3 linked regions of the Homo sapiens genome follow. The protein of the gene in region 1 interacts with the protein of each later gene in a biochemical or structural test. Each region holds a gene or a part of one and is shown in the gene's direction. Other genes may lie near its edges. The genes, in order: RLN3, RXFP1 and RXFP4.

Region 1 (7,190 bases):
TTAAATCTTTCCCATTTTGCAAGTGAGGAAACCAAGGCACAGAGAGTTTAAGTGACTTGGCCAAGGTCACACAGCAGGAAAGAGGCAGAGGTGGAATTTGAAGCCAAGCTTGCCCCCCTTACCAGAGCCCTTGTTTTTGCTGTGTTTTAAAGTCGAGGTGAAATTGACATTAACATAGCTGTGCCTGGTGGCTCATGCCTGTAGTCCTAGCACTTTGGGAGGCCAAAGGGGGAGGATCACTTGAGCTCAGGAGTTCCAGATCAGCCTGGGCAACATAGTTAGGCCTCATCTCTTTAAAAAAGAAAGACTGGCCGCAGTGGTTTACATTTGTAAACCACCTGTTTCCCACCTGGCTAATTTTTGTATTTTTGTTAGAGACTGGGTTTTACACTACGGTGGACAGGCTGGTCTCAAACTCCTGAACTCAAGTGATCTGCCCGCCTTGGCCTCCCAAAGTGCTGGGATTACAGACGTGAGCCACCGTACCTGGCCTGGTTAGTTTTATTTTATATGGATGTTATCTCTCTCTTTTTTTTTTTTTTTTTGAGACAGAGTTTCGCTCTTGTTGCCCAGGCTGGAGTGCAATGGCGTGATCTCCGCTCACTGCATCCTCCGACTCCCAGGTTCAAGAGATTCTCCTGCCTCAGCCTCCTGAGTAGCTGGGATTACAGGCATCTGCCACCATGCCCAGCAAATTTTTGTATTTTTAGTAGAGACGGGTTTCACCGTGTTGGCCAGGCTGGTCTCAAACTCTTGACCTCAAGTGATCCGTCCTCCTCAGCCTCCCAAAGTGCTGGGATTACAGGCATGAGCCACCATGCCCGGCCTCAATTTTTTTTTTTTTTAGACAAGGTTTGGCTCCGTTGTACAGGCTGGAGTGCAGTGATGCAATCTCAGCTCATGGCAGCCTTGAACGCTTAGGCAAAAGTGATCTTCCCACCTCAGCCTCCTGAGTAGCTGGGATCACAGATGTGTGCCACCACACCTGGCTAATTTTTACATTATTTGTAGAGGTGGGGTTTCACCTGTTGCCCAGGCTGGTCTGGAACTCTTGGGTTCAAGCAATCCTCCTGCCTTGGCTGCCCAAAGTTCCGGAATTACAGGCGTGAGCCATCATTCCCAGCCTCTCAATATATATATTTTTATTTTATTATGATGATGATGATTATTTTTTGTGACAAAGTCTCACTCTGTCGCCCACGCTGATGCACAGTGGCTCAATCTCGGCTCACTGCAGACTCTGCCTCCTGGGTTCAAGTGAGTCTCCTGCCTCAGACTCCTGAGTAACTGGGATTACAGGCATGTGCCACCATGCCCAGCTAATTTTTGTACTATTAGTAGAGATGGGGTTTGACCATGTCGGCCAGGCTGGTCTCGAACTCCTGACCTCAAGTGACTCGCCCGCCTCAGCTGCCCAAAGTTCTAGGATTACAGGCATGAGCCACTGTGCCTGGCCACTGCCACTAATTTTACATTATGGTGAGTTGTATGATTATTTCAATATACAACTACAGTATAATAATAATAGAAATAAAGTGCACAATAAATGTGATGCGCTTGGCCAGGCGCGGTGGCTCATGCCTGTAGTCCCAGCACTTTGGGAGGCCGAGGTGGACGGATCATGAGGTCAAGAGATCGGGACCAACCTGGACAACATGGTGAAACCTCGTCTCTACTAAAAATACAAAAATTAGCTGGGCGTGGTGGCATATGCCTGTAGTCCCAGCTACTCGGAAGCTGAGGCAGGAGAATCGCTTGAACCTGGGAGGCAGAAGTTGCAGTGAGCCAAGATTGCGCCATTGCACTCCAGCCTGGTGACACAGCAAGACTCCATCTCAAAAAAAAAAAAAAAAAAAAAAAAAGTGATACGCTTGAATCATCCCGAAACCATCCACTTGACACTCCATCCATGGAAAAATTGTCTTCCACGAAACCGGTTTCTGGCGTCAAAAACGTTAGGATCTGCTGCCTCAGGACACCCTTCTGTGTCTCCGTTTCCTCATTTGTAATATGAGAATTATCTTAGTCCTGAATTCATAACCCCATGCTCTTAAAAGTGTGGTTTCCGCCGGGCGCAGTGTCTCACGCCTGTAATCCCAGCACTTTGGGAGGTCGAGGCGGGCGGATCACGAGGTCAGGAGATCGAGACCATCCTGGCTAACACAGTGAAACCCCGTCTCTACTAAAAATACAAAAAATTAGCCGGGCGTGGTGGCGGGCGCCTGTAGTCCCAGCTACTCGGGAGGCTGAGGCAGGAGAATGGCGTGAACCTGGGAAGTGGGGAGCTTGCAGTGAGCCGAGATCATGCCACTGCACTCCAGCCTGGGCGACAGTGCGAGACTCCATCTCAAAAAAAAAAAAAAAAGAAAGAAAGAAACTGTGGTTTCTGGGCTGGGCGTGGTGCTCCAGGCTGGAGTGCAATGACACAATCTTGGCTCACTGCAACCTCTGCCTCCTGGGTTCAAGCGATTCTCCTGCCTCAGCCTTCTCAGTAGCTGGGATTACAGGCACCCGCCACCATGCCCGGCTAATTTTTATATTTTTAATAGAGACAGGGTTTCATCATGTTGGCCAGGCTGGTCTCAAACTCCTGACCTCAGGTGATCCACCCGCCTCGACCTCCCAAAGTGCTGGGATTACAGGTGTGAACCACTGTGTCCAGCCAATCCCAGCACTTCGAGAGTCTGACGCATTTGGGTCCCTTGAGTCCAAGAGTTTGAGACCAGCCCGGGCAACATTGTGAGGTCTCATCTCTACAAAAAATACAAAAATTAGCTGAGCATGGTGGTACACACCTGTAGTCCCAGCTACTTAGGAGGCTGAGGTGGGAGGATCATTTGAACCCGGGAATTCAAGGCTGCAGTGAGCTATGTTGCCACCACTACAATCCAGCCTGGGCAACATAGCCAGACCCTGTCTCTGAAAAAAAGAAAAAAAAAAAAGTCTGGTTTCTGAACCAGCAGGATCAATGTCACCTGGGAACTGGTTGGAAATGCAGATTCTTAGATATGTTCCATACCTGTTGAGTCAGGAGCTCTGCAGGTAGGACACAAAGATATGTGTTTTGTTTGTTTGTTTTTGAGACAGAGTCTCACTCTGTTGCCCAGGCTGAAGTGCAGTGGCGCCATCTCAGCTCACTGCAACCTCCACCTCCCAGGTTCAAGCAATTCTCCTGCCTCAGCCTCCCAAGGAGCTGGGGCTACAGACATGAGCCACCACACCCGGCTAATTTTTTGTATTTTTAGTAGAGGCGGGGTTTCACCATGTTGGCCAGGCTGGTCTCGAACTCCGGACCTCAGGTAATCCTCCTGCCATGGCCTCCCAAAGTGCTGGGATTACAGGCGTGAGCCACCGCGCCTGGCCTGATTTCTGTTTTAACAAGCCTACCCAAAGATTCTGAAGCTCACTCACATTTGAGAACCATTACCCTGGGTTGTTGGGAGAATCAAATACATTACAGAGATATAAAATGCTTTGAGCAGCTGAGGGCTGTGGCTCATATCTGTAATCCCAGCACTTTGGGAGGCTGAGACAGGCGGATCACCTGAGGCCAGGAGTTCGAGACCAGCCTGGCCAACGTGGTAAAACCCCGTCTCTACTGAAAATACAAAAATTAGCCAGGTGTGGTGGTGGGCGCCTGTAATCCCAACTACTTGGGAGGCTGAGGCGGGAGAATTTCTTGAATCTGGGAGGCGGAGGTTGCAGTGAGCCAAGATTGTGCCATTGGGACTGTACCTCTAGCCTGGGTGACAGAGCGAGACTCCATCTAAACAAACAAACAAACAAATAAACAATAAAATGCTTACAGTAGTGTGCCTGGCCTCGTAGCACATACTGCACTGGGCGTTCACTGCTATTATGATCTTCGAAGAGGTCCAGGACCCTAACGTTGTGGGGATCTGGTTGTGTCACCTTACCCCGCCTTTTGGGATTATGCGTTTCTGGTCTCTGCAGGTTGGAGACCTTCTCGCCTCTCTGTCAATGATGTTGACAATAAGCTGGGCCACATCACCCTGTCCCTAGCGAAAGGTTATCACTTCGCTGGGGACATGAGAAAGGTCGGGTTGGGGGGGCCGTGCCTGTCTCCCCTCTGCTGGAGAAGATAAGGGAGGCACTCAGCTTTCTTCAGGCAGAGTGTGGGGGAGCCACGATGTATAAATGGGGGGCCAAGAGGCAGCAGAGACACTGGCCCACTCTCACGTTCAAAGCATCTCCGTCCAGCATGGCCAGGTACATGCTGCTGCTGCTCCTGGCGGTATGGGTGCTGACCGGGGAGCTGTGGCCGGGAGCTGAGGCCCGGGCAGCGCCTTACGGGGTCAGGCTTTGCGGCCGAGAATTCATCCGAGCAGTCATCTTCACCTGCGGGGGCTCCCGGTGGAGACGATCAGACATCCTGGCCCACGAGGCTATGGGTGAGGCTGGGGAGAGAGTGGATGTAGAAGGGGAACAGGTGGCTGGATGGGTCCCAGGAGCTAAGGACAGAGATAAGAGGAGGTTGCTGGAGGAGGAGGGTCCCTGTCCTGCCACATTCAGCCAGGGACACCTGCCCAGCCTTGAAACAAGGGCTCAGGAGTTAGCAGAGCTGCAGAGCTGGGATGGGGTGTTGCAAGCCATCCATGGGGGCTGGAAGTCTGAGGACAGGTGGGGGCGGGGAGCGTGCCATTTGCAAAGACAACACCGAAGTGTTTTCCAACCCTTTCCAGCAGGTAATGTGAAGGGTGTGGTATACACATAGCTGGGTTTGTCACCTAATGCATGACCTCTCCCCAGCAAGTTGGTTTTTCTTCCGTCTCTGAGTGTCTTTTTTTTGGAGATGTGGTCTCACTCCATTGCCCAGGCTTGAATGCAGTGGCCCAATCACTGCTCATTGCAGCCTCGACCTCCCAGGCTCAAGTGATTCTCCTGCCTCCGCCTCCAGAGTAGTTGAGACCACAGGCACCTGACACCATGCCTGGCTAGTTTTAAATTTTTTTTTTGTAGAAACAGGGGTCTCACTATGTTGCCTAGGCTGGTCTCGAACTCCTGGGCTCAAGTGATCCTCCCACCTCGGCCTCCCTAAGTGCTGAGATTAGAGTCTCTGAGTGTCTTTATCTTCAAATGGGAGACACAGTTCCTGAATCTTGCAGGATTAAGTGGTATGATTAAATCAAAACAGATTAGGGCAGAGTCTCAGCAGGGCAGCGGCACAATCTGGGATCCATCAGGAGAGTCAGAGGGAACAGAAGACCTAGCTTCATGAGGGGCAGGGACCTGGCAAATAGATATTCATGATGGTGAGAAGGAGGATAGGTATGAGCGTGGACATAGAAGACACACCACTTGGATTCAGATAGTAGCTCTACAATGTAATAGTTGTGTGTTCATGTGCTACTATTTTTTTTTTTTTTGAGACAGAATCTCATTCTGTTGCCCAGGCTGGAGTGCAGTGGTGCAATCTTGGCTCACTGTAACCTCCATCACCTGGGTTCAAGCGATTCTCGTGCCTCCAGCCTCCCAAGTAGCTGGGATTACAGATGTGTGCCACCATACCTCGCTAATCTTTTTATTTTTAGTAGAGACAGTTTCACCATGTTGGCCAGGCTGGTCTCCAACTCCTGACCTCAGGTGATCCTCCCACCTCAGCCTCCCAAAGTGCTGGGATTACAGGCATGAGCCACCGCGCCCAGCCATGCAAATTCTTTACTGAGTCCTGCCTCAGTGGTCTCCTCTGGAAAATACGGGTGATAACTGCACCCACCTCAACTGGTTATCACTGAGAAGAATAAAGAAGTTAACCTGCTAAAGCACTTAAAACGTTGTTTGACACAAAGTAAGTGATCAATAAATTATTATTATTATTATTATTATTATTATTATTATTTTTGAGACAGGGTCTTGCTCTGTTGCCCAGACTGGAGTGCAGTGGTGTGATCACAGCTCACTGCAGCTTCAACCTCTTGGGCTCAAGCAATTCTCCTGCCTCAGCCTCCTGAGTAGCTGGGACTACAGGCTTGTGCCAACATGTCTAACTTTTTATTATTTGTAGAGACAGGGTAGTGCTGTGTTGTCCAGGCTGTTCTTGAACTCCTGGTTCTGGTGATCCTCCAGCATGTGCCCCTGGAAGTGCTGGGATTACAGGTGTGAGACACCGTGCCCGGACTCAATAGTCATTTTTGAGTGCTCATCATGTTCCAGACATTGTTCTAAGTTTTTTTTTTTAATGAATATTAACTCCTTATAAAACTTGAGAAGGTTGGAGTAATTATTTTTTTCCACTTTGCAGAAAAGAACATTGAGGCTCCAAGAAGTAAATTTACTTGCTCACGATTAGAGAAGCTGGATTCATGCTCAGTCAGCCCAGCTCCCAAATGTACCAGGTCCTCAATTAATAAAGAGTAAGGAGAAATAAATGACAGGGCTGGGTGCGGTGGCTCACGCCTGTAATCCCAGCACTTTGGGTGGCTGAGGTGGGCACATCACTTGAGGTCAGGAGTTTGCGACCAGCCTGAACAACATGGTGAACCCCATCTCTATAACAATACAAAAATCAGCCAGGCCTGCTGGCAGACACCTGTAATCCCACCTACTCTGGCAGAGCCAGAATTTGAACCCAGGACTGGGTGGAATAAAAACTCTGAACTATGTCTATGACTGTTGTCACAAGATCAGAGCTAGACTGGCCAGGAGCCATGACTGTGGGTGCAGCAGCAGCTGAGCCCTGATCACTAACTCTGTTCATCTTTTGCAGGAGATACCTTCCCGGATGCAGATGCTGATGAAGACAGTCTGGCAGGCGAGCTGGATGAGGCCATGGGGTCCAGCGAGTGGCTGGCCCTGACCAAGTCACCCCAGGCCTTTTACAGGGGGCGACCCAGCTGGCAAGGAACCCCTGGGGTTCTTCGGGGCAGCCGAGATGTCCTGGCTGGCCTTTCCAGCAGCTGCTGCAAGTGGGGGTGTAGCAAAAGTGAAATCAGTAGCCTTTGCTAGTTTGAGGGCTGGGCAGCCGTGGGCACCAGGACCAATGCCCCAGTCCTGCCATCCACTCAACTAGTGTCTGGCTGGGCACCTGTCTTTCGAGCCTCACACATTCATTCATTCATCTACAAGTCACAGAGGCACTGTGGGCTCAGGCACAGTCTCCCGACACCACCTATCCAACCCTGCCCTTTGACCAGCCTATCATGACCCTGGCCCCTAAGGAAGCTGTGCCC
Region 2 (7,112 bases), on another chromosome or scaffold:
CCCTTTTCTCCAGATTCTCATCAGCATTTGTTACTTTTTGGTCTTTTTGATAATAGCCATCCATCCAACGTTGGAGTAAGATGATACCTCATTGTGGTTTTAATTTGCATTTCCTTGATCATTAGTGAGGTTGAACATTTTTTCAAGCATAGGTTGGCCATTTCTATGTCTTCTTTTTTTTTTTTTTTTTTTTGGAGACAGAGTCTCGCTCTGTCGCCCCCAGGCTGGAGTGCAGTGGCACGATCTGGGCTCACTGCAAGCTCCGCCTCCCAGGTTCACGCCATTCTCCTGCCTCAGCCTCCCGAGTAGCTGGGACTACAGGAGCCCGCCACCACGCCTGGCTAATTTTTTGTATTTTTAGTAGAGATGGGGTTTTACCATATTAGCCAAGATGGTCTCAATATCCTGACCTCGTGATCCACCCACCTCGGCCTCCCAAAGTGCTGGGATTACAGGTGTGAGCCACCGCGCCCAGCCTTGTATGTCTTCTTTTGAGAAATATCTGTTCAGATCATTTGCCTACTTTTTAATGGGATGTTTTCTTTTCTTTTTTTCTTTTCTTTTTTTTTCTTTCATTGGTGTTGAAATAACATCATAACTTCAATAACAAAAAGCCACGGAAGCACAGAAAAGAAAACACTTAACTCTTCCCCTGAGGGATAGAAAGCAGTCACTTGCAGCACAATAGGAGCTGTGTAACTGCATTTACGTATACTAACCATTGCGAGTACGATAACGGTTTCTCTGGAGGGATTCATTCTCTTGATCACATCTAACAGTTTGTATTCTAAGACATGTCTAACACTTGTTATGTTTATTATGCCTATTTGCTACTCTCACCCACACATTCTTTAACAATGAAATCAAGCTAATGATAATTGGATGTAAGTTTAAAGTTTCAGAATCCCTAATGTTTTAGTCCTCTCAATTTCATCTTAAGACATTTTCTTTCTACCGATAAAATGTAGGAAATAAATATGAATGTATGGTGACACTGAATTAAATGGAAAATCTTATTTTACTTTCTCTTTGTACACCAGATATTTTAAGAAATTCCAGTACTGTGGGTATGCACCACATGTTCGCAGCTGTAAACCAAACACTGATGGAATTTCATCTCTAGAGAATCTCTTGGCAAGCATTATTCAGAGAGTATTTGTCTGGGTTGTATCTGCAGTTACCTGCTTTGGAAACATTTTTGTCATTTGCATGCGACCTTATATCAGGTCTGAGAACAAGCTGTATGCCATGTCAATCATTTCTCTCTGCTGTGAGTATTTCCTGGTTAAAGGAGAATTGTAGTTTTGAAATATACAAAAGCTTTATTATTAGAAAATAAGTTGTGTGAGTGGTAGAATTATGGAATTTTACATTTTTCTCCTTTTTGCTTGTATGCTGTTTTCACATTTTCTACAAAGAAAATAGAATTACTTTAGCAATAAAAAAATATGTTTTTTAAACTAGGAAATTTAATCACCTTATGCAAATTAAGGAAGCTTTCATTTATTAGTTCTCTCTCATACAGTGGCTCCGAAGGCACAATATTTTGTTGACGCATCTAAAATCTTTTACTACAAATAAAATTGCAACCTCCTATGGTCACAATTTTACATGCAGACCTATACTTACTTTTTTATGTGTATGTCCAGTTCACAGATATTGACTTAACAACTACATGTTTTCCTGATCTCTGAGCTACTAGAAGTTTTTTCCACTCTAACTGAAATGTGTAAATAAGAAAATATTTTTAGGGAGTATTCATTTTTTCAAAAAGTGTGCGCAATGTAATGGCAAGGTGTTATGTTAAATGAACACTGCAAAGAAAAATAAGGAAGAAACCAGTCCTCAGGATGTTTGTAGTCTAGGTCAAGTGTTCTAGAATTTATCCATGCTCCCTCAAGCAAGTAAAGCATCAATCTACATGAGGTTCTACTTTTGTATGTGTGCTGCCCCCATGTGCTGTCCCCATCCTTATTCAAAGTCTAATGTCTAAATGTTTTTTTTTTATTGCAAGCTATGTAAGAAACAGAACTCAGAAGCCATTTACTATTTTGTATTGCTAGCTACAAAATTTTTAGTAAGTTCAATTTCCGTGGTGAAGCCTAGACTGTAACTTCAGAGTTAAAGGCTTAGGGTCAGCCTTGTGATTTATACAGTGATGTGATTTTAGGGATTTTGTGTAGAATGCTTGTGCGATCCAAAAATCTCACCCACTTTCTGATATGTAACGTTTGCTTAAAAAGAAATATGCCAAGTAGTGTAAGAGAGCTAATTCCTGGGATCGGAGACCCTAAAAAGAGACAGAAAAAGATGTAAAAATTGAAAGAGAGAGAAAACAGTTTTGCTTAGACCAACTCTGGTAAGTAATTTAAGCCCCTTAAAATTGTACTGACTGCAAAGCAGTTCATAATTATACATATCTCTTAAATTATAGGCTTCAGAATTCAGTCATTATTCTATCATAGGAACTTGTGAATTACTTTCTCCAAGATTTTATATGACACCTTGAGCTTGTTGCGTTGGGAGAATTTCAGTGGAAGAGCAGAACCAAGTAATGCCATCCTCATCTGAGTCCCTAACTGAATGCTCTACGTGATTGCATTTTGTTCATTTATTCGACACTTCTATGTGATGGGTCTAGAACAATAGACAAGATCTGTGCTGTTAGAGACTTGCACTTTAAAGGAAAATGAAGAAATGATTGCATAATTAACTGTAGAGAGTAACTTTGAGAGTGGTTACCAAAGAGAGTCTATGAATAGATCCTCATCTGTAAATGAATTATTAGGAGAATAAAAATTACCTCTTCCTAAGTTGGAAGAAACTTGACTATTTTTTCTAGCATTAAAAATATTATTGCTTATTGATGATTTTATGATACCTATTTATTTCTCTAAATTTGTGAAACTATGACTCCTCTAGGTGCCGACTGCTTAATGGGAATATATTTATTCGTGATCGGAGGCTTTGACCTAAAGTTTCGTGGAGAATACAATAAGCATGCGCAGCTGTGGATGGAGAGTACTCATTGTCAGCTTGTAGGATCTTTGGCCATTCTGTCCACAGAAGTATCAGTTTTACTGTTAACATTTCTGACATTGGAAAAATACATCTGCATTGTCTATCCTTTTAGATGTGTGAGACCTGGAAAATGCAGAACAATTACAGTTCTGATTCTCATTTGGATTACTGGTTTTATAGTGGCTTTCATTCCATTGAGCAATAAGGAATTTTTCAAAAACTACTATGGCACCAATGGAGTATGCTTCCCTCTTCATTCAGAAGATACAGAAAGTATTGGAGCCCAGATTTATTCAGTGGCAATTTTTCTTGGTAAGAAACTAAGAAACTAATGTTCACAAATTTTTATTTCAAATCTTCCAACCAGTTTTTGTTAGTAAGAATGAGGGTGAATTCTATCAGAATCCCCAGCAAGGATTTTCCTCCCCAAATTATACTCTGATATAAATTCCAACCTGACACAGCTTAATAAAAGACACTAAACACCTGTATTTCATGTATTCACCCTAAACATGCTAAGCAACATATGTTTTGGCTCTTTGTTTTACAATATGAACATAATGATATTTATTATCTTTTCAAATTCATGGCAACACACATCTTTGGCTTGTGAGTATATATACAACTGTTCTAAATCAGCAATGTAAAAATATTTTCAGAGTACAGCAAAAAGTAACTGAATTAGAAAAAAATCACTAGGCCAGGCACAATGGCTTGTGCTATAATCTCAGTACTTTGGGAGGCCAAGGTGGGAGGATCACTTGAGGCCAGGAGTTGAGACCAGCCTGGGCAACATAGCAAGACCCCATCTCTACAAAATTATTTTTAAAAAATTAGCTGGTGTGAGGCCAGGCACGGTGGCTCATACCTGTAATCCCAGCACTTTGGGAGGCCGAGGCGGGCCAATCATAAGGTCAGGAGTTCAAGACCAGCCTGACCAATATGGTAAAACCCCATCTCTACTAAAAATAGAAAAATTAGCCGGGCATGGTGGCACGCACCTGTAGTCCCAGCTACTCGGGAGGCTGAGGCAGGAGAATTGCTTGAACGCAGAAGGCAGAGTTGCAGTGAGGCAAGATAGTGCCACTGCACTCCAGCCCGAGCAACACAGCGAGACTCCATCTCAAAAAAAAAAAAATTAGCTGGTGTGATGGCATGCACCTGTACTCCCAGCTACTTGGAAGGCTGAGGCAGGAGGATTGCTTGAGCCCAGGAGTTTGAGGCTGCAGTGAGCTATGATTGTACCACTGCACTTCAGTCAGTGACAGAGCAAGAACCCATCTCTAAAAAAATTAAAAATAAAACATCACTAATACTAGAAAGCTTAAAAACCCAAGATATTCATTGAATTACTGTAATTTCAATATCTCATTTTAAAAGTAAACATTTTATCATTCTTCACTACTTCCACAAAACCTCATCTCAAAAAAATTCATGATTTTTGTGGACTTTAGTAATTCTTTGTGAAGAAAAAACCCACACATTATAGTCTTTGTATCTTTAGTAATAACATCTTTGTATCTTTAATAATAAAAATGTTTTATTTATGTTTGTTCATTTTGAAAGAAATATTTCTATGCATTAATAATACTGTTTGTATTCCAAATAGGTATTAATTTGGCCGCATTTATCATCATAGTTTTTTCCTATGGAAGCATGTTTTATAGTGTTCATCAAAGTGCCATAACAGCAACTGAAATACGGAATCAAGTTAAAAAAGAGATGATCCTTGCCAAACGTTTTTTCTTTATAGTATTTACTGATGCATTATGCTGGATACCCATTTTTGTAGTGAAATTTCTTTCACTGCTTCAGGTAGAAATACCAGGTACAATATTTTTTAATCTCCTTAAAGAAATAATAAATCTGTTTTTACAGTGTTCTTTTAAGGAAAACAATTAAAATTCTTAACACTAAACAATTCAAAGAATTGTACATCAGATCCGAGCACAGTGGCTCATGCCTATAATCCCAGCACTCTGGGAGGCCAAGACGGGCAGCTCACTTGAGGTCAGGAGTTTGAGACCAGCCTGGCCAACATGGGGAAACCCCATCTCTGCTAAAAATACAAAAACTAGCTGGGCATGGTGGTGCACCGCTGCAGTCCCAACTACTCAGGAGGCTAAGGCATGAGAATTGCTTGAACTCAGGAGGCAGAGGTGGCAGTGAGCCGAAATTGCACCACTACACTCCAGCCTGGGTGACAGAGCCAAAAAAAAAAAATTGTAAAAATTGTAAGTCAGAGTTGTAGGTACTTTTGGCTCTGCTCATCAATATAACATTTACTGGGGAAGAACTGTTTATTTTTTTCCATAAATGCCTAACAATACAATTACTATGGAACAAAGAAGCAATGAGTGACCAAAATAAATTCCACACGGTGTTGAAATTCTAATCATCACATGCTTAAGGTGACTAGAAAGGAAAACAGGCCAAAACAATTCTTAAATAATTACTGCATTTTTTTTCAAAATGTAAGAAAATTTTCTTCCTGTAATACATGCAATTTAGAGAAGATCATGCCAGAGTGTGAGAGATAATAGAAGCAAACATTCTTGGCATTTAGAAAGAACGTTGGCTGGCATGTTGCCTCACGCCTGTAATCTGGCACTTTGGGAGGCCAATGTGGGAGGATCACTTGGGCCCAGGAGTTCAAAGCTGCAGTGAGCCATGATTGCACCACTGCACTCCCGTCTGGGTGACAGAGCAAGATCCTGTCTCAAAAAAATAAAAATAAAAAATAAAAAATAAACAATGTGCATTACATCCATTAGGATGACTACTATTTTAAAAAAACACACATACAAAAAAATAAGTGTTGGTAAAGTTGTGGAGAAATTAGAATCCTTGTGAATTGCTGGTAGAAAAATAAAATGGTACAGCTGCTATGGAAGACAATATGGCAGTCCCTCAAAAATTTAAACCATCCAATGGTTTAGTTACCATCCAATGTGGAAATGGTCCAGTTACCATCCAATGTGGAAATTCTCCTTCTAAGGAAAAAACCAAAACAATTGAAAGCAGGGACTCAAAGAGATATTTGTACACCCATGTTCATTGCAGCATTATTCACAATAGCCAAAAGTTAGAAGCAATACAAATGTCCATAGATTGGTAAATGGATAAACAAAATGTGGTACATACGCACAATGGATTAGTATTTAGTCTTGTAAAGGAAGGAGATTTTGACAAATGCTGCAATATAGATGAACCTTGAAGATACTGTGCTAAGTGAAATAAGTTAGACACAAAAGGACAAATATTTTATTTCACTTACATGACGTTTCTGATATAGTTAGATTCATAGAACATAGAACGGTGTTTTCTAGGGGTTGGGGGAAGGGAGAATGGAGAGTGTTTAATAGGCATAGAGTTTCAGTTTGGGAGATGAAATCATTCTGGAGATGGATGGTGGTTATGGTACAATGATATGAACGTACTTAATGCCACTGAGCTGTCCACTTAAAATGGTTACATGGTAAATTTTATGTTATGCATATTTTACCACAATGAAAATGCATATATCCTGTTAAATATATATAAATATATATATATATATATAATGCAGTTTGTATTCACATTTTAAAATTTTCATGTAGCAGGGCGCAGTGGCTCACACCTGAAATCCCAGCACTTTGGGAGGCTGAGGTGGGCAGATCACTTGAGGTCAGGAGTTGGAGACCAGCCTGGCCAACATGGTGAAACCCCATCTCTACTCAAAATACAAAAATTTAGCTGCGCCTGGTGGCATGCACTTGTAGTCCCAGCTACTTGGGAGGCTGAGGCATGAGAATGCTTGAACTTGGGAGGCAGAGACTTCAGTGAGCGGAGATTGTGCCATTGCACTACAACCTGGGTGATAGAGCAAGACTCTATCTCAGGAAAAAAAAACAATTGTATATATTAATACATAATTTTAATTGTGTTCTGTACTATGGATGATGGTGATAGTATCTTACATTTTATGAACAACAAAAAGAAGGCCAAGTGGTGAAGACTGATTGAACCCAGGAGATTGAAACCAACCTGGACAACACAGGGAGACCCTGAGACCCCAACTCTTCAAAAAATAAAAAAATAAAAAATTAACC
Region 3 (6,392 bases), on another chromosome or scaffold:
CCGGCCCCCCTTATTTTCTTAAGTTAAATGTTTAGTTCACTTATTTATAATTCTTTTTTTTTTTTTTGAGATGGAGTTTCACTCTTGTTGCCCAGGCTCGAGTGCAATGGTGCTATCTCAGCTCTCTGCAACCTTCACCTCCCAGGTTCAAGTGATTCTCCTGCCTCAGCTTCCTGAGTAGCTGGGATTACAGGTGTCTGCCACCATGCCTGGCTAATTTCTGTATTGTTAATAGAGATGGAGTTTCACCATGTTGACCAGGGTGGTCGTGAATTTCTGACCTCAAGTGATCCTCCTGCTTCGGCCTCCCAAAGTGTTGGGATTCCAGGTGTGAGCCCCGTGCCCAGCCTTATAATTCTCATAAAAGTCTTAATTTCACCAATAACATTTCTCTTTTGATGGCCAAGTGAGGTGACTCATGCCTATAATCCCAGCACTTTGGGATTCCGAGGCTGGTGGATCACTTGAGGCCAGGGCAACAGAGTGAGACCCCATCTCCACAAAAAATAAAAATTAGCCAGTGTGGTGGCACTTCTGTAGTCTCAGCTACTCAGGAGGCAGAGGTGGCAGAATCACTTGAATCGAGAAGGTTGAGGCTACAGTGAGACATGATCACACCACTGCACTCCAGCCTGGGTGACAGAGCAAAGAAACATAAAATAATAAAACATTTCTCTATTGATACAACGGAATCTGATTTTCTAAACTCAATTCAATAGCACTTTGTTCTACTGTTAATTGAAAAACTCTCTCTAAAGTGAGATACGTTAGGCTGAGGTCATTTTTCCTTTCTGTTGGGTGCATGGTCAAAAAATTGACATATGAATCAATTATTCTTTCCTAGTGGTCATTTAGGTATTATTAGGTCATTTACTACCAACTCTAAAGCAGTGACACCATGGAGAGCACATAAAATCCATAGAGCTAGGTCCCATAACCTCTCTGTCAGTCTCCTCTCCTTGCTACTCCCCCTGTGTTTCAGTGGCACTTTCTAGCTAAGATTCAGTCCCCTTTTCTCCAGATGGTGGTGCTACATTCCCATACCTGTCTCCAGAGTATCTCCCTCAAACTCATTTAGATCAGCCCAACCTTGGAAAATGCCAAACCGGGTCATGCTCTTTTGGCCTAATATTCTTTCCCACAGCAGTAGGAGTTGTGATGGGAAAAAAAGAAAAGATGGAGGGTGGGCTTTCTCAGTGTCTCCAGTATTCACCACATCACCCCAGGGGTACTACCTCAAGCATTTATTGAATAATTTTTCCAAACAAGGAGATTTCCTGTGAGGGATTCTGATGTCACCTCTAAAAATAGTTTTAGAAATATTTTTCCACTTTCTTACAAGGGGAAATCTATCAAAAAGAATAATGGAGCAGCTATTCAAAAAGAATAATGGAGCAGCTATTCAAAAAGAATTAGAGTGTATAGCCCCATTTCTAGCCCCTATGAGGCCTGGCTATACTTTGTGCCATGTGCTTGGATTGCCATGAGGTTACCCAGTGTTTTTTTGTTTTTTGTGGGTTTTTTTTTTTTTTTGAGACGGGGGTCTCACTCTGTCACCCAGGCTGGAGTGCGGTGGCATGATCACAGCTCACTCCAGCTTTGACCTCCCAGTCTCAGGTGATCCTCCCACATCACAGGTGCCCGCCACCACGCCCAGCTAATTTTTTGTTGTTGTTGTTTTGTATTTTTAGTAGAGTAGCTGGAACCAAGTAGCTGGAACCACAGGCATGAACCACCATGCCTGGCTAATTTTTTGTTATCTTTTGTAGAGATGGGGTTTTGCCATGTTGCCCAGACTGGTCTTGAATTACTGGGCTCAAGCAATCCATTCGCCTCAGCCTCCCAAAGTGTCACCATGACCAGCTGATTTTTTTTTTTTTTTTTTTTTGAGACGGAGTCTCACTCTGTCGCCCAGGCTGGAGTGCAGTGGCACGATCTCGGCTCACTGCAAGCTCCACCTCCCGGGTTCATACCATTCTCCTGCCTCAGCCTCCCGAGTAGCTGGGACTACAGGCACCTGCCACCACACCCGGCTAATTTTTGTATTTTTTTTTTTTAGAGATGGGGTTTCACCATGTTAGCCAGGATGGTCTCGATCTCCTGACATGCCTGTAATCCCAGCACTTTGGGAGGCCAAGGCAGGAGGATCACCTGAGGTCATTTCAAGAATATTTTTGATGCTAGGCGTGGTGGCTTATGGCTGTAATCCCAGCACTTTGGGAGGGTGAGGTGAGAGGGTTGCTTGAGCCCAGGAGTTCAAGACAATCCTGGGCAACATAGGGATACCCCATCTCTCCTAAAAATACAAAAATTAGCCTGTGTGGTAGCACATTCCTGTGGCTGAGGTAGGAGGATCACCTGAGCCTGGGGAGGTCGAGGCACTGAGCCAAGATTGTGCCACTGCACTCCAGCCTGGGTGACAGAGTGAGACCTCTTCTCAACCAAAAAAAAAAGAAAAAAAGAAAAAAAATTTTTTTTTTTTTTTGAGATGGAGTCTCGCTCTGTCGCCCAGGCTGGAGTGCAGTGGTGTGATCTCAGCTCACCAAAATCTCTGCCTCCCGGGTTCAAGTGATTCTCCTGCCTCAGCCTCCCGAGTAGCTGTGATTACAGGCACTCGCCACCACGCGCCACTAATTTTGTATTTTTAGTAGAGACGGGCTTTCCCCATGTTGGTCAGGCTGGTCTTGAACTCCCGACCTCAGGTGATTCGCTCACCTCGGCCTCCCAAAGTGCTGGGATTACAGGCATGAGCCACCTCGTCTGGCCAAGCAGTTATCTTAATTGCCAGATTAGCAGGGTGATTCTGGGTGGGCAGAGGAGTAGACATGGCCCCGAGAGACAGTGATGACACAGTCACACAGGAGCAGCCATGAGGCCAGAAGGTAGCCTGTGGGGCTCACCTGACCTTGGGCTGGGCACTCCCCTTCTGCCACCCCCTTTATACTCATCCCTGGTTCGAAAGCCCCAACATGTTGGCACCCAGCCTGTATCACTCTCACCTCTGGGTTTCTCCTATGTGTTCACAAGCCCACTGCTGATTTATTGTCGCAAAGGGCCCCTCTCTTCCCTCAGCACTCCAAAGGAACTGAACATCGAACGTTATCTTAATTAGCTGGCAGAGGGCAAGAAGGGGCTGAATATATTGGAATCCTTGAGAAAGCCTTACTCTTTTACCTATCCACCTCCTGCCTTCTCTTTGTCCCCACCTCAGCTCCTTCTGCAGTAGGTAGAGATGTAGGCAATGAAAGGGGAGGGCCCAATGAAGCATTTTTTTTTTCCAGTTATGATTGAGATCATGGGGAGACAGGATGAGGTGTGGTGAGGGCGTATCTCAGGATCCTTAGCTCTGACATGGGGTTTGCAGGAGAGAGTAGGGGGACCGCTGAGCTCTGTCCACAGACTAGAGCAGGAAAGGGGGGAAAGGCGGCGATAGAGGTTAGCAGGAATGTTTAATTATCAGGAGCAGGAACAGAACTGAGGGCATGCCCAGGTCCACACAGGCCCTCATAGGCCCAGTGTTCCCAGTGGGGAGGAAACAGGAAGCTGTGACTTCCTCTCTCTTTTCCCTCCCTGCTCTTAGCCTCAAGGTCACTGCTGCTGAGATGAATTCCAACCTGTTTTAGTTGGCACTGTTCCCTGGGCATGGTAATAGCCTCTCAGTACCCTTCTGCCACAAACACCCCAAACTTCTCCTTTGAAATAATATTCATACAAATTGCTATTTCACATGTGTTCTCTCATTGCATCATGCCACTCCTGTGAAGCAGACTTACCTGAAAATTTTAAGCAAGAAAACAGGCTTAGGGGAGTAAAGTAACTCTCCCAGTCACACGGCTAGTGAGCAGCAGGTCTGGGACTCCGCAGCCTCCGCTCTTTCCTCTCTTGGACACCCATGCTGATTCCCTGCCTCTATGCCACCTCCCAGGCCCCTTGCTTTGGGCCCCAAGGGAACACTTTCTGCAGAGGAGGGAGGCCTCTGCACTGTTAGGAACAGAGGCAGCTCTAGTTTGGTTCCTGTCATCTCTGGGACAGGGAACCTCCAGCTCTCTCCCTGGGGTGGAGGCTTGGGGCTGCCCTCCATAGCGGGGTAACTCTCCCTTCTCCCCTCCCTCTCTGCCATTTAGAGCCCCTCTTACAGGCGGGCGCATGCACATATACCCTGGCATTCAGGCTGTGCCTCGCCCTGCCCCACCTACCACCAATCTTGACCAACAGGAAGGTGGTGGGTTGTCCTTTCCACACCCCTCCCTCTGAGGTGTGGGCGTGGGCCAGGGCTCACCAGAGGCCCCAGAGAAGCACTTAATTCTACAGCCTCCTTCCTAGAGCCTTCAGTGGCCTCTGCCAGTCTGGCAGACACTTGCAGACCTCTCTTCTCAGCACCACCAATCTCTGATGCCCTGCGATGCCCACACTCAATACTTCTGCCTCTCCACCCACATTCTTCTGGGCCAATGCCTCCGGAGGCAGTGTGCTGAGTGCTGATGATGCTCCGATGCCTGTCAAATTCCTAGCCCTGAGGCTCATGGTTGCCCTGGCCTATGGGCTTGTGGGGGCCATTGGCTTGCTGGGAAATTTGGCGGTGCTGTGGGTACTGAGTAACTGTGCCCGGAGAGCCCCTGGCCCACCTTCAGACACCTTCGTCTTCAACCTGGCTCTGGCGGACCTGGGACTGGCACTCACTCTCCCCTTTTGGGCAGCCGAGTCGGCACTGGACTTTCACTGGCCCTTCGGAGGTGCCCTCTGCAAGATGGTTCTGACGGCCACTGTCCTCAACGTCTATGCCAGCATCTTCCTCATCACAGCGCTGAGCGTTGCTCGCTACTGGGTGGTGGCCATGGCTGCGGGGCCAGGCACCCACCTCTCACTCTTCTGGGCCCGAATAGCCACCCTGGCAGTGTGGGCGGCGGCTGCCCTGGTGACGGTGCCCACAGCTGTCTTCGGGGTGGAGGGTGAGGTGTGTGGTGTGCGCCTTTGCCTGCTGCGTTTCCCCAGCAGGTACTGGCTGGGGGCCTACCAGCTGCAGAGGGTGGTGCTGGCTTTCATGGTGCCCTTGGGCGTCATCACCACCAGCTACCTGCTGCTGCTGGCCTTCCTGCAGCGGCGGCAACGGCGGCGGCAGGACAGCAGGGTCGTGGCCCGCTCTGTCCGCATCCTGGTGGCTTCCTTCTTCCTCTGCTGGTTTCCCAACCATGTGGTCACTCTCTGGGGTGTCCTGGTGAAGTTTGACCTGGTGCCCTGGAACAGTACTTTCTATACTATCCAGACGTATGTCTTCCCTGTCACTACTTGCTTGGCACACAGCAATAGCTGCCTCAACCCTGTGCTGTACTGTCTCCTGAGGCGGGAGCCCCGGCAGGCTCTGGCAGGCACCTTCAGGGATCTGCGGTTGAGGCTGTGGCCCCAGGGCGGAGGCTGGGTGCAACAGGTGGCCCTAAAGCAGGTAGGCAGGCGGTGGGTCGCAAGCAACCCCCGGGAGAGCCGCCCTTCTACCCTGCTCACCAACCTGGACAGAGGGACACCCGGGTGAAGGGCGCAAGCTGAACACACTCCTCTTTCTGAGATCCACCAAGTGTAGGATCCTTGAGTCCTGGGGAGAAGCTGCCCTCTCTGCCAGGCTGCAGTGCCCTCAGGGAAAAGTCTGATCTTTGATCCCCAACTCTGGGTGTGGTGAATGGGGGAGGCGGGGGCTCAGATCAGAGCTGGATGTGACAAAGCTTAAGTCTTTATTTGGAGATGGGAAAGAAGAGGATCTGAGAATAAACCTCTGGATTATCCACAAATTGTCTTGACCTTTTATCCCAGTTCCACCTCCAGTTCAGTATGGAACAAAAGGATTCGTTGCTCCATTTCTGCTTTCTGCAAGAATACCTAGGAAAACTTCCCTAAGGGTTCTAGGCTAATGAATCAGAGGTCAGTGCCCATCTCTCTCTGTACCCACCCCCCACCTCAAAACAGGGTATCCCTTGTCTTTCTCCGGTATCAAGGCCAAAAATGCCAGCTTCCCCTGTCCTCACCTTACCATCTCAGTGGTGACCACTGAAACTTGCTGCCTGCAGAGGCCTCAGCTGCAAAAGCTGTAGTTCCCTTGAAGGGATGCCAGGTGTGGGGTATTGCTGGAATTTCCAGCACCTGCCAGGCCCTGGGTGTAAAACCCTGGTGCTGACGGGAGTGCCTGTGTGTCTCCCTTTAAATCAGGATTTGAAAGAAGTGAAGATAATGACAAGTCAAAGACATGGGTGGGGTGAAGGGAGGTGAGCGATTAAAGAGGGGAGGGGGCTGGGAGAACAGGCTGCAGGTAGAGCCAGAAAAGCAGAGACCTCAGAAAGTGGTGCTAGTCCTCCCTGCCCCAAATGCAAAGCCCAGAGTATCAATTTGAGTGTCAGAGCACCTGG

What was found.
Region 2: the proteins of RLN3 (region 1) and RXFP1 interact in a test that uses a peptide from one of them, tested with the Homo sapiens proteins (one study listed by BioGRID).
Region 3: the proteins of RLN3 (region 1) and RXFP4 form a complex in vitro, tested with the Homo sapiens proteins (one study listed by BioGRID).

What each region holds. Positions count from the first base shown.
Region 1 is NC_000019.10:14,023,983-14,031,172, forward strand, and holds the start of RLN3 (relaxin-3 preproprotein), read left to right. Parts: upstream 1-4,165; 5' UTR 4,166-4,222; coding exon 4,223-4,412; intron 4,413-6,262; coding exon of another isoform or gene 6,263-6,374; intron 6,375-6,727; coding exon 6,728-6,966; 3' UTR 6,967-7,190. UniProt on the Homo sapiens protein: May play a role in neuropeptide signaling processes. Ligand for LGR7, RXFP3 and RXFP4.
Region 2 is NC_000004.12:158,643,869-158,650,980, forward strand, and holds part of RXFP1 (relaxin receptor 1 isoform 1 precursor), read left to right. Parts: intron 1-1,040; coding exon 1,041-1,270; intron 1,271-2,434; exon of another isoform or gene 2,435-2,813; intron 2,814-2,922; coding exon 2,923-3,333; intron 3,334-4,630; coding exon 4,631-4,849; intron 4,850-7,112. UniProt on the Homo sapiens protein: Receptor for relaxins. The activity of this receptor is mediated by G proteins leading to stimulation of adenylate cyclase and an increase of cAMP.
Region 3 is NC_000001.11:155,937,308-155,943,699, forward strand, and holds RXFP4 (relaxin-3 receptor 2), read left to right. Parts: upstream 1-4,330; 5' UTR 4,331-4,402; coding exon 4,403-5,527; 3' UTR 5,528-5,780; downstream 5,781-6,392. UniProt on the Homo sapiens protein: High affinity receptor for INSL5. Also acts as a receptor for RLN3/relaxin-3, as well as bradykinin and kallidin. Binding of the ligand inhibit cAMP accumulation.